2 linked regions of the Homo sapiens genome follow. The protein of the gene in region 1 purifies or fractionates together with the protein of each later gene. This does not show direct contact. Each region holds a gene or a part of one and is shown in the gene's direction. Other genes may lie near its edges.

Region 1 (8,467 bases):
TATTACAAAGCTATGGTAATTAAAACAGTATTATACTGGCATGAAAAAGACAGATAGATCAATGAAACAGAATAGAGAACCCAGAAGTAAACCCATATAAGTATGCTTTATTAGGGTGAAGAAGTCACTTTCTATTCTTAGATTGCTAATAGTTTTTTAAAATCATGAATTCCATTATATTAATTTTCTGCTTCTGTTGAGATGACCATATGATTTTTTACCTTTATATTGTTAATATGTGTCTTTGTTCATATGTGTTGCTATAAAGGAATACCTGAGATTATGTAATTTATAAAGAAAGTTTATTTGGTTCATTGTTCTTCAGGCTGTACAAGAAGTAGGGGGCCAGTATCTGCTTCTGGTGAGGGCTTCAGGCTGCTTCCATTCAAGATGGACGGGGAAAGGGAGCCAGCATGTGCAGTGATCACATGGCAAGATAGGAGGCAAGAGGTGGGGGAGGTGCTAGGCTCTTTTTGTCAACCAGCTCTCACAGGAACTAATAGAGCAAGAACTCACTAATTACCACAAGGACAGTATAAAGTCATCCATGAGGGATCTGTCTGCATCACCCAAACATCTCCCATTAGGCCCTGTCTCCAACATTGGAGATCAAACTTTAACATAAGGTTTGGAGGGTCAAGTATGCAAACTATATAGCAATATGGCAAATTAATTATTGGATTTTCATGTATTAAACCAACCTTGCATTCCTGGGATAAACCCCATTTGGTCATAGCATTCTTTTTATGTATGCTGGTTTGATTTGCTAATATTTTGTTAAAGAGTTTTGCACATATGTTCACTAAGGATATTTGTAGCTCTTATTTTGTAATACCATTTTCTAATTTTGATATCAGGATAATGCTGACCTTTTAAAATTAATTGGTAGATATGCTTTCATTTTATATTTTCAGAAAGTATCTAAATTGACATTATCTTAATTACTTGCTTGGTAGAATGCATAAGTGAAGCTATTTGTGTCTGAAGTGTATTTTGTGGGAAATATTGTCATTAGGTATTCAATGTCTTTAAGAGATAAAGAGCTTTAACATTTTCTCTTTGTTCTTGTCACCATCTTAATAAATATCATTCAAGGTATTTGCTTATTTCATTTAAGTCATTAAATTTATTAGTATAAAGTTGTTCATAATTTTCAAATTATCATTTTTATACCTGTAGAATCTGAATGATGTCCCTTCTTTCATTTCAGATATTAGTAATTTGTCCTCTTTATCTACTTAACTGTTGATATCTCTGTGCTCAGTTTATCAGTCTGGCAAAAATATAAATTAAAAATGGACAAAAAATTTGAAGAGAATTCAAAAATGGTATAGAAATGGTAATTAAACATATGAAAATATGCTCATACCATTAATAATCAGGGAAATTCAATTAAAATCAAGTGAGATAGCCCTGCACACTTATTAGAATGATGAGAGTAAACAGACAAATTTAAAAAAAAAACAAAATACCAAGTGCTGGAAAGGATGTGACTAAATCTGAACTCATACATTGTTGGTAGAAATGCAGAACGGCATTCATTTTGGAAAACAGTTTGGTGGTTTTGTACAGTCATTCATATATTTACCATACAACTAAGTAAACCTATTCTTAGATAACTGAACAGGAGTAAAGAATACTAACTAACACAAAAATCTGTATGTAAATATTTTTAGTAGCTTTATTCATAGTTGCCAAAAGCTAGAAGCAACTCAAATGTCTTTCAACTGGTGAATGAATAAACTATGGTACATTCATACCATGGAATAGTACTTAACAATAAAAAAAAAAACAGGACCGAAAAACAAAATGGATTGTCTTCAAATGCATTGTGCTAAATGAAAGAAACCAGATTCAAAAGGCTACAGCGCCTATCATTACATTCAGATGACGTTCTGGAAAAGGCAAAATTATAGGAACAGAAAACAGATCAGTATTTACCAGAGCCTGGGGTTGTGGGGATAAGGCGACTCCAAAGGATACAAAGGAATTTTAGAGGATGACAGAACTGCTCTATGATTGTGCAGGTAATTATATGACTTAAGAGTTTTTCAAAACTTAGAGAACTGTAGGCCAAGAAGAATGCATGTTATTGTTTTTAAATTATAGTGCAATTTAAATAAAGCATCATGCTGTATTTAATCTGCCACAATTTTTCACTCAGTATCATGTTTCTAATATTCATCCATGTCATATGTAAAGTTCTAGTTCATCAACTTTCTCTGCTGCATATTATTGTATTGTGTGAATATTTCAAATGTATTCATTCATTCTCCTGCAAAAGTATTTTGTTATTGTCTTTCTGTTTTTCATTTTCTACTAAGCTCAATACTTCTCCAATGATTTTGGAACAATTTTATGAAGTATAGAACTAGGAGTAGAATTGCTGAGATTTAGAGTATGTGCCTATTCAACTTTACAAAATAATCTGACATTTTATTCCCTTGTTTGGCCCCGCCCACATCCTGCTGATTGGTGTTACAGAGTGCTGATTGGTGCATTTACAATCCTTTAGCTAGACACAGGGCGTTGATTGGTGCATTTTTACAGAGTGCTGATTGGTGCGTTTACAATCCTTTAGCTAGACACAGAGCACTAATTGGTGCGTTTGTACAGAGTGCTGATTGGTGCATTTACAATCCTTTAGCTAGACCCAGAGTGCTGATTGGTGCATTTACAACCCTCTAGCTAGACAGAAAAGTTCTCCAAGTCCCCACCCGACCCAGAAGTCCAGCTGGGTTCACCTCTCACTAATGATGCTGTTTGCTTGTCTGTTTAAAATGCTGACAGCTAGATCTCCTCATTGTAAAGTAACATTTCTTTTCCTTTAGAATTATAAAGAAATATGCGGGGTAAAACTTTGCCTCACTTTAAATTATTTTAAAGTAAATTAATAGGGCTTATTTGAATCCATTGTTTATTGGTGCTTGCAAAATAGTAACTATCATTATTTTTCTCCATTCCTACCAGGTATTTTCTGTTAAGAAGAGCTTTTCCTTGTTAAAAGGAGGTGAAATCTGGTTTATTTCCAAAAGCATTAGATTAAATCCTTCTTTCTTTTAATTACCAGCTTTCAGAGTAAAGATCTGATGCAGTAGTTGCCTCCAGTGGAAGTGGGGTTCTTTTTTCCCTGTTTTTCTATGTTGTTGAGTATCATTATGGATTTCTTTTTTTTATTTATTTAATGTCTTAAATCAATCCCAGTAATTCCATTTGATTCCCAAATTGCCTCAAATTCACCAGTGTCCTTTTTACATAATCTTATCTTCTTAGTCTCTGACTATGTCCTTACTGTCAAGCATAAAATGTTCCAGGCTCATCTTGTACTTTTCCTGCCACAGACAGACAGTTTATCTAGTTCAGTCCCAGTTTCAGCTATCTATTTATTGCTCTGGTTTCCAGCTCTCTCTTTCTTTCTGGCCTCTGGGCATTTTCTTTAGGTTTTTTTGTTGTTGTTGTTGCTATTGTTTTTTCAAGCTCAGGTTTGCATTTTTTCAACACCAAAATTTTTATTCAGTGACAACTATGGGCTGAATGCAAAAGTGAACGAAATAAGTTCTCTGAGCTCAAGGAGCTAACTTACATTCCAAAAATCCTTGTTATATTATCTATGCATTTTAATGTATATTTTGGTCTTCCAATTTTACGTATTGTGAAGATTTTAAAGTAATCTAGCCTGCTATATTACCATTAAAGGTGTTATAAATGATAATTTGTAAAATTTTACATTAGTTTGCAGAATTAATATTTAGAAAAACAAAAAATAGGAAGTCCAATGAGGAAGGAATTGCAGTACTCTAGGTATAAAGTGATTAGACTATTGGTAGAAGTAAGAATGTAGAAAAAAACTGGACTACCTGAATATCTTGAAGGAAGAAAAGATAGAATTTTGTAACACTTTAGTAAGAGGGCATGATACAGAGGAAGGAGTCAAAATTAGCTGCAAATTTTCTTCCCTTTCAGAATGAAAGAATGACTATAACATCTACAGAAATAGTGTAGCTGGTGTGAATGGGTGGGAAGATAAAAATATATTTTGTTGGGTAAGGACTGTATTTCTATATTTAATATACCATGCAGTGCCTTAACATGGTGTTTTACACATAACGGATAATCAATAATTGCATCAATGTACTACATTTGAAAAAAGCAGCAGAGCAACTACGTGCACGTCTCAAAGCAACTGGGAAAACAGGACTAGAAGACAGTGAATAAGTGACAAGATTATAGGTGAGCAGGGGGAGTAGAGGTGCTTTCTTTGCATCCCTAGAGCCTGGTTTGGTGTTTGGCACACAGCCAGCCCTCAATTCACATTTACCAAATAAATGAACCTATATCATTTGCATAGACATAATAGCTGAACCCATGGGAATAGATCTTAAACCAGAGAACATGCAGTTAAAAAAGAACCCTTCTTTCCTATGCCCTGCACTGCTAACAATTGCCTGCCTCAGAAGAAGCAATTCTAAACATACCTTGAGTTCAGGATAATTGGTGGAGTTGGAATTTCAGGAACTGTTTTTTGTTGCTGTTGTTTGTTTGTTTGTTTGTTTGTTTTGGTTGGGGGAGGTGTATTCTAGATTTAAGACATCAAAGTGACAGACTTGCCGCCTTCAAAGTTATATCCATTTTGTACAACGGTCAGATTATCTCCATAAGTTAGAGCTTGTAAGTGCAATCAGGGCCATTCAGGCCCCCAAATAGAAACCTCCCTTATTAGCTGGACTGCTGTATAGCATTCGCTAACTAAAAGGTTATCGGATTCCCCTCTCTCCTTTCAAGCTGACCTGACAGCCCTTTCTATTCCCATCCTCAAGGGGGCGGTGACTACGGAGCCACTCCTTATACACGGACGCTCAAAACTGCACCAAAACTTCCCTGCTCGGCTCCCCGGTGCGTCAAACTCTGAGGCCACCGCCTCAGACTGAGCCTGCGCATACAAGAGGTGCAGAGCAAGCGCATGCGTCGTGACGGCCCGGCTTAGGCGACTCTGGGCGGGTCTGGGCCGCTCCAGTGTTTTGGGGCACAGAAGCTGTGGGAGGAGCTGGAGGCTTCACCGTGGTAACCACAGCGCCGCTGCTGCCCCGCCTTGCAGGCCTCAGGACTGTCATCGCCTCTGGGTGTGAGGGTACTTTGGCCACCGTCCCCGGAAATAACCGCGCCTGCCTCTCAAGATACCCCATCCTCTCCACGCCGCTGCCGCTGCCGCCATGCAAGGGGAGGACGCCAGATACCTCAAAAGGTGACGACTCCCCAAGGCTCTGTCCTACCCTCCTTGCCAGGGCCCTGAAGATGTTCTTGGGTTGGCTGTGAGATGTCACTGGGCAACGCTAGTTTAGCAGACGGGATGGGAAGCAGGGAGAGAAGTCACCGAAAGGAGAGGGAAAAGGTGAAGTGGAGAAAAAAGGAGAGCTCTGGGGGGGTTTCAAAGTCCTTTGACCTGACTCGGCGGAGCCCTGACAGCATTGAAAGATGGTTTCTTCGCTACATCACCTTATTCCAGGGGGAGAGGGAGGTAGGGCAAGGTAAACCGCGTCTTTTGTTTTTTTTTTCGCCTCTTCCCAGACTCTCCATTTTCCCATAATAGATAAATCCCATGAGAGCCTGGGAATAAAGTCTGGTGCATCCGCCCTCAGGCCTCAGTTTGGGGTTCATTGCCATGGGCTTTTGAAATGATGAAGGGGAAAGAAGTGGTGGATTCTACTTTTTGGAAGGCTGAATTGAGATGTTGATTTCCAGTCTCTTTCTGCTTTCCGCATCCATGTCATCCATTTGACTCCCATGTATACAACATAATTTTTGTAGGACATTTAGTAATTATTAAGAGGTTTGTTCAGAAGTTTGATGACAATAAAATAGGCCATAATTTCTTTTAAATATAGTATCAGTTACTCAAAAAAATTGTAGTCTGTTGGGATTATTTGGGTGCTGGCAAATACTCAGATCATTCCTGATTTGGAAAAAAAAAAAGATACCTCCCACTGAACCAAGAGTAAGCAGTGATCCAATAGAAAAAAATTTTAATTCAGTACTGATTCAGTAAATACCCTGGAAAAGTCGCATGTATTCCTTTGGGCACGGTTTCCTCATCTGAAAATGGGACAGGCGTTACCTTCTGAGAGATACAAGGACGAAAGATGAAATACTTTTAAAAAATGAAACATGAATGTAAGGTGGTGGTATTATTTCAAGTCATAATACACTTGCAGTGAATATTTTTATTCTGGCTTGGCTGAGCTCTCATCATCACAGAAAGATCTTCCAAGTGTTAGTAGACTCATAGAAGGGATTCAAACAATTGTATAATAAATAAATCAACTCTATTGTCCTGGCAAGACAGGCATATATTGACTGTCTTTTTTATTTTATGTAAATATATCTGAAACTGGCAAATAGCCAGACTTTGTCAGTAAAAATTTTTAAATGAATATATAAGCCTACATCAGTGTTTATTTCCTCACTGAATTTTACTTAACGTTGGTTTTTAAAATACCTTGGTTAAAAATTTTGTGACAGAAGAAAATAAATTGCCTTTTAACTTTAAATTCAAAATTGTTCTGGAACAAAGAGCCGCTGTTATACCATTAGCTGATTTTCATGTAATATATTTGTGTCAGAGGTAGTTTTTCTTAACATTATCGTACCAGTATGGACACTGAGGCATACTGTGACTTATAATTCTCAACCTATTGTTTGCTTTTAAATACATACTATCTAGAGTTCCAAAATTAAAACCAAGCCAGTCAATGTAATGTTTGAAGTAAAATGAGATTAGAGTCTGAAAAGGTTGAAAAATACATTTCTCAATTTCATCTAATTTTTACTATAAATAATAAAAAGTTTGAATTGTCTGTTTTCAGACTAGAAGCATACAGGAGACATGTATTTATACAGGCCTGATGGAAAACATTTGTGATGTCTGATAGAACCTTCAATTTTAATTATTGTTTTTTGACCATGATTACATATATTCTTTAACAATATTTTTACTTTTATATTTTGTTTTTAACAAGACAGCAGATAGCAGTATATTTTCAGTCCCTTCCTACCTGAGTAATTCCATATTTTGGTTTTACAAAAATAATTTTTTTTGAATCTCTATGTGTTTTGGTGTTTGATTCTTACATGCCCTTCCTTTATCTGGAACTTGCCCTGTTCTTTGCCCCGCTAATTCCTCATCTTTCCTGTTTTGACATAAATACCACTTTTTCCAGAAAGCTTTCCTGAACTTCCCTTTCCCACCTCACAATCCAGGTCAGGTATACCTGTTAGGGTCTCATGATACTTAATACCTTGTTTTTCCCTAAACTTACTACTTTATATTTCCTTCTGGTTTATAAAGTTCATAAAGGTAGGTGCTATGTGTCTATCTTACTTCCCATTGTATTCCCAGCACTCAGCAAGGTGCCTGAAACATAGATTATTAAGTAAAGTCAGAATAAGACTAGAAAGAAATATGAGCCAAATCATATGGGACTTAAGCGCTTTAGTAAAGAGTTGAGACTTTATTTTGAGTGCATTGGTGAACTATTGAAGGATATTAAAAGTGAACAACATTTGTTCATTCATTTAATAGTTGAGATTCTACTGTGTAAAAGTCATTAAGCCAAGTGATAAAACATATTTGGTAAATGAAACATAAATATATTCCCTGCCTTCATGGCATTTACACTCTAGCAAGTAATACAGACTTTAAAATATACTGATATTTATTGTATTTATGAGTGCTATATGAAAAAAGTGTGTGGCTTTTGTGTCAAGCATTTCTCACATGGTATATCAAGGTCCATCTGTGTGGTAGCATGTATCAGTACTTCATTCCTTTATATAGCTGCATAATATTTGCTGTGGTTTGGATATAGTTCGTTTCCACCAAAGCTCATGTTAAAACTTGGTCCCCCATTGTGGCAGTGTTGGGAGCTGGAGCCTGGGAGGTGTTTCAGTTTTGGGGGTGGATCCCTCATGAATGGCTTGGTGCTGTTCTTGCTGGAGTGAGTGAATTCTTGCTCTAGTGAGACTGGATTAGCTCTCTTGGGAATGGATTAGTTCCCTCTAGAGTTGGTTGTTATAAAGCCAGGAAGACCCTTGGGTATTCTCTTTTCTCACTTCCCCTTTGATCTTGTCCACTGTGTTATAATGAAGCACAAAAGCCCTCACTGGAAGCCAGAGTCATGCCCTTGAACTTCCCAGCCTGCGGAACTGTAAGCTAAATAAACCCCTTTTCCTTATAAATTACCTAGTCTCAGGTATTGTGTTATAGCAACATAAAATTGACTAATTCAGTATTCCATTTTATGGATATACCACATTTTGTTTGTTTATTGCTCATCTGGTGGTGGACATTTGGGTTGTTTCTACCTATTGGCTATTGGGAATAAAGCTGCTGTGAACATTACTGTACAAGTTTTTGTTTGAACACTTGTTTTGTATCTTTTGGTGTATACCTAGGCCTGGAATTGCCAGACCA
Region 2 (5,012 bases), on another chromosome or scaffold:
GCCTGTAATCCCAGCTACTCGGGAGGCTGACGCAGGAGAATTGCTTGAACCTGGGAGGTGGAGGCTGCAGCGAGCTGAGATTGTGCCACTGCACTGCAGCGTGGGTGACAGAGTGAGACTCCATCTCAAAACAACAACAAAAACACAATATACTCTAATAGAAGTGATGCAGGTGTGTCTGTCTCTCGAAACATCTGATTGTACTGTACTTGCCTATTTTCAGACCACAGTAACTGAGACTGTGGAAAGCGAAACCACGGATGAGGGGGACAACTGCACTAGCTTCAGTTGTCAAGCTGTATTAGAGCAAGGAGAAGAAAATTCCAGAACTTGCAGTCTGCAGGGCCTCCTAGCTACCTGAATGATATTTAGGTCCTCATGATGTCATTTGCTGTTTGTGTTCCACAGAAATCCTTTCTAATATAGCCTCTTTCCTACAGCAGTAGCAGCCAGATGAAGAAGCGGCCAACATCTGCAGTGGGCTACAAGAGGCCTATCAGCCAGTATGCTCGGGTTGCCATGGCAATGGGGTCCCACCCCAGGTACAGGGTAAGAAGCGGAGAGGGGAGAAAGAGCCTACGGGAGGGAGGCCGGGCGAGGTGTCTCACACCTGTAATCCCAGCACTGTGGGAGGCCGAGGCAGGTGGATCACCTGAGGTCAGGAGTTCGAGACCAGCCTGGTTAACATGGTGAACCCCTGTCTCTACTAAAAATACAAAAATTAGCCAGGCGTGGTGATGGGTGCCTATAGTCCCAGCTACTTGGGAGGCTGAGGCAGGAGAATTGCTTGAACCTGGGAGGTGGAGGTTGCAGTGAGCCGAGATTGCACCACTGCACTCCAGCCTGGGCAACAGAGTGAGACTCCATCTCAGAAGAAAAAAAAAAAAGAGCCTATGGGAGGGGATGCTCACAGCCTCTGCTTCCCCTAACCACCTCATCAGCCCTGCTACACCCAAGACTGGCTGAGTCCCTAGAAGGCACAGTGACTGGGCACTGTTCAAGCCTGGCATGATATTCCCACCACAGGCTGAAAACATAATGTTTCTGGAGTTGGATGTGTCCCCTCCAGCTGTCTTTGAGATGGAATTCTCTCACGACCAAGAACAAGACCCTCGTGCGCTACACATGGAGAGGCTCATGCGATTGGACAGCTTTCTGGAAAGACCTTCCACGTCTAAAGTCCGAAAGTCCAGATCCTGGTCAGTACCTCCATGGTCCCAGGCAGCACTGGACCCAGGAGGCAGGGGAACTGCAGGCGCTGGGTGATGCTAAAGAGGGTTTTGCTGGTACCCGAAGGGCAGGAAGGGCAAGGGGTGACTGGGGATGTCAGAAGGATTCCTGCAGCAACAGGATGGGGCAAAGGAGAGGACCCACTTTCCTGTTTCCTGTATTTCCCTAACCTCCCCTTTCGCCTGCGTCATCTCCCCTGCAGGTGCCAGAGTCCTCAGCGGCCTCCACCTTCCACCACACATGCCTCCCTGGCCTCTGCTTCTCTGCGCCCTGCAACAGTGGCGGACCATGAGTGACAACCATCACGTCAGGCTGCCCATCCAATAGACTCCTGGGATGGGGCAGCCAACCCTGGCTCATCTCATCTGCCGCTTGGTGCGTGTGCGTGTGCGTGCATGTGCGTGTGCGTGTGTGCAGGGGTGAGAATCTGGCAGATGGTGCCTCTGCCTGCTCTTCTTCGCCTCCTTTATTTAATTCATGTTATTTATTCGCGGAGCTCTGTTCGTGTTGGGGAGATGCCCTCGCCTGAGCCGTCTGGGCCTACCGTGGTCACTGCGTAGCCTCTTTTTCTTCTGACTTGAGAGCTCCCCCAGTCAGATCTCAGGCTTGTCCCCCTGTCAGCTGCCTCCAGAAGGGAAGGTAGCCAGTGCCTGAGAAGACAGTCCCTTTTCTACCCACCGCACTCCATAACCTCCATCTTCTCCCACACTGATGGCGAGCAGCCCCTGAGCACTTTCTGGGACTGGGAGACTGCTTGGTGTTCCCTGAGGACAAGAGACATCCTGACAGTGTTGGGCATCTGCTCCCCGTGGACACAGCCCCACTCTCCACTTTCTGAGCCTCAGACAACCTCATTCAGCCTCTTGGGCTCCTTTTCAAGGACATTAATAACCTCACCAACATAGCTCATGCCCTTCAGCTTTGACAAGAACTCACAGCTTCCCAAACTCTGCTTTCTGCCCACCTTGGATGGGAACTGTGGACCAAGCAATTACCATCGCCTTGGAACCTGCAGGAAATGGAACAGCAATTGAGACAACTTGAACAGTCATCAACGGAAGTCCCTCCACTGGATTCCTTTGTTTCTGTCCCCTCCGAGGAGTCATTTTGGTCGACAGGCTCTCAAGGCAACTCCCCATTTTCAAGAGGCTGCTCCTGCCTGCTTCGATCATTTCTCCCTGCAGCTGCCTAGACCCCGTTCACAGTGGGAGGAGTCAATGTCATTCTACCCCTCGCTAAACGAAGATATTAACATCTATTGCTTTTTCCCTTCATCTGTCACAGGAAACAGAAGCCCAGGCACAATCTTTTCCAGCTTTGCCTGTTACCCCTGTTTCTGAATTGCATCTTTAAGGTATTATTTTGTTGAAAATAGATCCTTTATTCACTAGTTACGCAAATTGGTTCCTAGGGGGATACTCCTTACCTTCCTTTGTGATGGCCCAAAATGTCTCTAGGTATCTCAAGTGATAAGTAAATTTCTACAAAAAAAAATGGTTAATGTTCATTGACTGGCTTTTTAAGTGTATATTTTGGAGGACGGGTGAAGAGGTCATAACGAAAGCAAGCGAGTGAATTAGGATTTCAAAGTGCCCTAATAGTGTGAGTCTCCAGTTCCTAGAATATGAAGAGTGCTGTCGTTGGGGTGAAACCATGAGACTGACAGATCTGCCTGAAATGGGGGGTGTGGGAGGTGGTGGCGGGGGTTATTCTCTTTCCTTCAGGAAATGAACCCTTCTTACATCATTCAAGTTCTGCTCTGAGGATCAAGCTTGGGTCTGATTTAACTCAGCGACACTGTCATTTCTGCTTCATTACTGGACTAGAGGGTTGAGCCACCCACTTGCCATTTGCTCCTGTCCTTCCAGGAAATCACAATTTTCATCAGAGCCCAAGAGATTATTTGAGACTCAGGATTCAGATCAGAGGTTCGACTGTGGCTGGGACAGGAGTTGTGTGTAGAAATTCACCAGGTGGCCTGAGCGCAGGGGGACCTCCAGGGCTGCGTTGAGCAGCCTCTCCCACTGACCTCTTTCTCGTTTGTGGACAAAGCAGCACGTATCACCTCATTCATCACTTGGACACATCGCCTTTGCATTGTCTTGTCACACCTCCCTCACAGTCTTATAGCACAATATACCCAAATCAGCCCCCCCAGTCCGAGGGCTGGGCCCGAGGTATGGTCGGAGGAGGAGCTCCTGCCTGCGGTTTTGTGTATGTGTGTATGTGTGTGCGTGTTTGTGTGCGTGTTTACCTCCACAGGGGACACTCTACACTCAGTGTAAGATCTGCTGGGAACAGGGCCACCAGGAGTGGCTGGATCTCAGTCTCTCTGTCTCTCTTTCTCTCCTTTTCCTTTTGGTGTATCAAATATTTGATTGACAAAGTAAGGGCCTTGATTAGGACCAAATTCTCGTGTGTTGCTATGGTCTTTATTTAGGACAACAATTAACAATGCAGTGGCCCATTCTTGTCACTCTACACATATGACTATACGGGACATATGTAATATATAAATATATATATAAAACATTCCCCTCTGTCCCCTTGGCTTCGGATGGAGGCCTTTCTGTTGAGCTGAAATGCACCTGCAGCTGGGTGCTGCCAGCAGCTTGCAGGCCCCAGCCCTGTTCCAATCAATGCAGTTGACAATAAAGGAATGAGTATCGTCACGGAGTTGACTGCCTTACTTCTCTTCCCTTTGTTTCTTCCTACTTTAACTCCCTCCCTTTTTCATTTTCTCCTTTCTCTCTCTTCCATGTTTTTCCAGTAGGGGCTCAAGAGTATATCAGCCAGACGTGGTGGCTCACACCTGTAATCCCAGCACTTTGGGAGGCCCAGGCAGGCAGATCACCTGAGGTCAGGAGTTTGAGACCACCCTGGCCAACATGGTGAAACCCCATCTCTACTACATATACAAAAATTAGCCTGGTGTGGTGGCACACACCTGTAATCTCAGCTACTCTGGAGGCTGAGGCAGGAGAATCATTTGAACCCTGGAGGCAGAGCTTGTAGTGAGCTGAGATTGTGCCACTGCACTCTAGCCTGGGCGACAGAGCAAGACTCCATCCCAAAAAATAAAAATAAAAAGAGCATATGGATTCCAGCTGCAGTTATCAGCACTTTGGAAAAGAACTGGTTGCTTAATAAATGGAGATCTGTTTGCCCAATAGGGCTGGGGAGCAGGTCCCAGGCACTAGTCGGAAGTCTGTGCCGGGACTATGGCAGCAGCTGTTTGTGTTCTAGGCTGGTCGTCCCCAACCAGTTAATTCTGAGCAACTGGCAGATTTCAGAACTGCCTCAGTGGTGTCCAGATTAGCTGTCACTGTCATACTCCCTATGCCCTCATTGATCCACCAAAGGGGTTAAAGGAGGAAAGAATGCATGTAAACCACACAGATGTGCCTGGGCCTGATGGGTGCTGAATTACAATAACTTGAAAGTCTAGGCCGAGTGCGGTGGCTCACGCCTGTAATCCCAGCACTTTGGGAGGTTGAGGCAGGTGGATCCCTGAGGTCAGGAGTTCGAGACCAGCCTGGCCAACATGGTGAAACTCTGTCTTTACTAAAAATACAAAAATTAGCCAGGCATGGTGGTGCACACCTGTAGTCCCAGCTACTCGGGAGGCTGAGGCAGGAGAATCGCTTGAACACAGGAGGCAGAAGTTGAGGTGAGCTGAGATTGTGGCATTGCACTCCAGCCTAGCCAACAAGAGTGAAACTGTCTCGAAAAGAAAAGAAAGACTAGCTTCCCTTATCCTCTCTTCTCAGGACCTATTTTCC

The links. The genes of interacting proteins can lie anywhere in the genome.
Region 2: the proteins of KIFAP3 (region 1) and KIF3C purify together in Homo sapiens (co-immunoprecipitation; 4 studies listed by BioGRID and IntAct, with this or other methods). This does not show direct contact.

Annotation. Positions count from the first base shown.
Region 1 is NC_000001.11:170,071,211-170,079,677, reverse strand, and holds the start of KIFAP3 (kinesin-associated protein 3), read left to right. Parts: upstream 1-4,982; 5' UTR 4,983-5,210; coding exon 5,211-5,242; intron 5,243-8,467. UniProt on the Homo sapiens protein: Involved in tethering the chromosomes to the spindle pole and in chromosome movement. Binds to the tail domain of the KIF3A/KIF3B heterodimer to form a heterotrimeric KIF3 complex and may regulate the membrane binding of this complex.
Region 2 is NC_000002.12:25,925,492-25,930,503, reverse strand, and holds the end of KIF3C (kinesin-like protein KIF3C), read left to right. Parts: intron 1-440; coding exon 441-549; intron 550-1,026; coding exon 1,027-1,199; intron 1,200-1,432; coding exon 1,433-1,526; 3' UTR 1,527-3,906; downstream 3,907-5,012.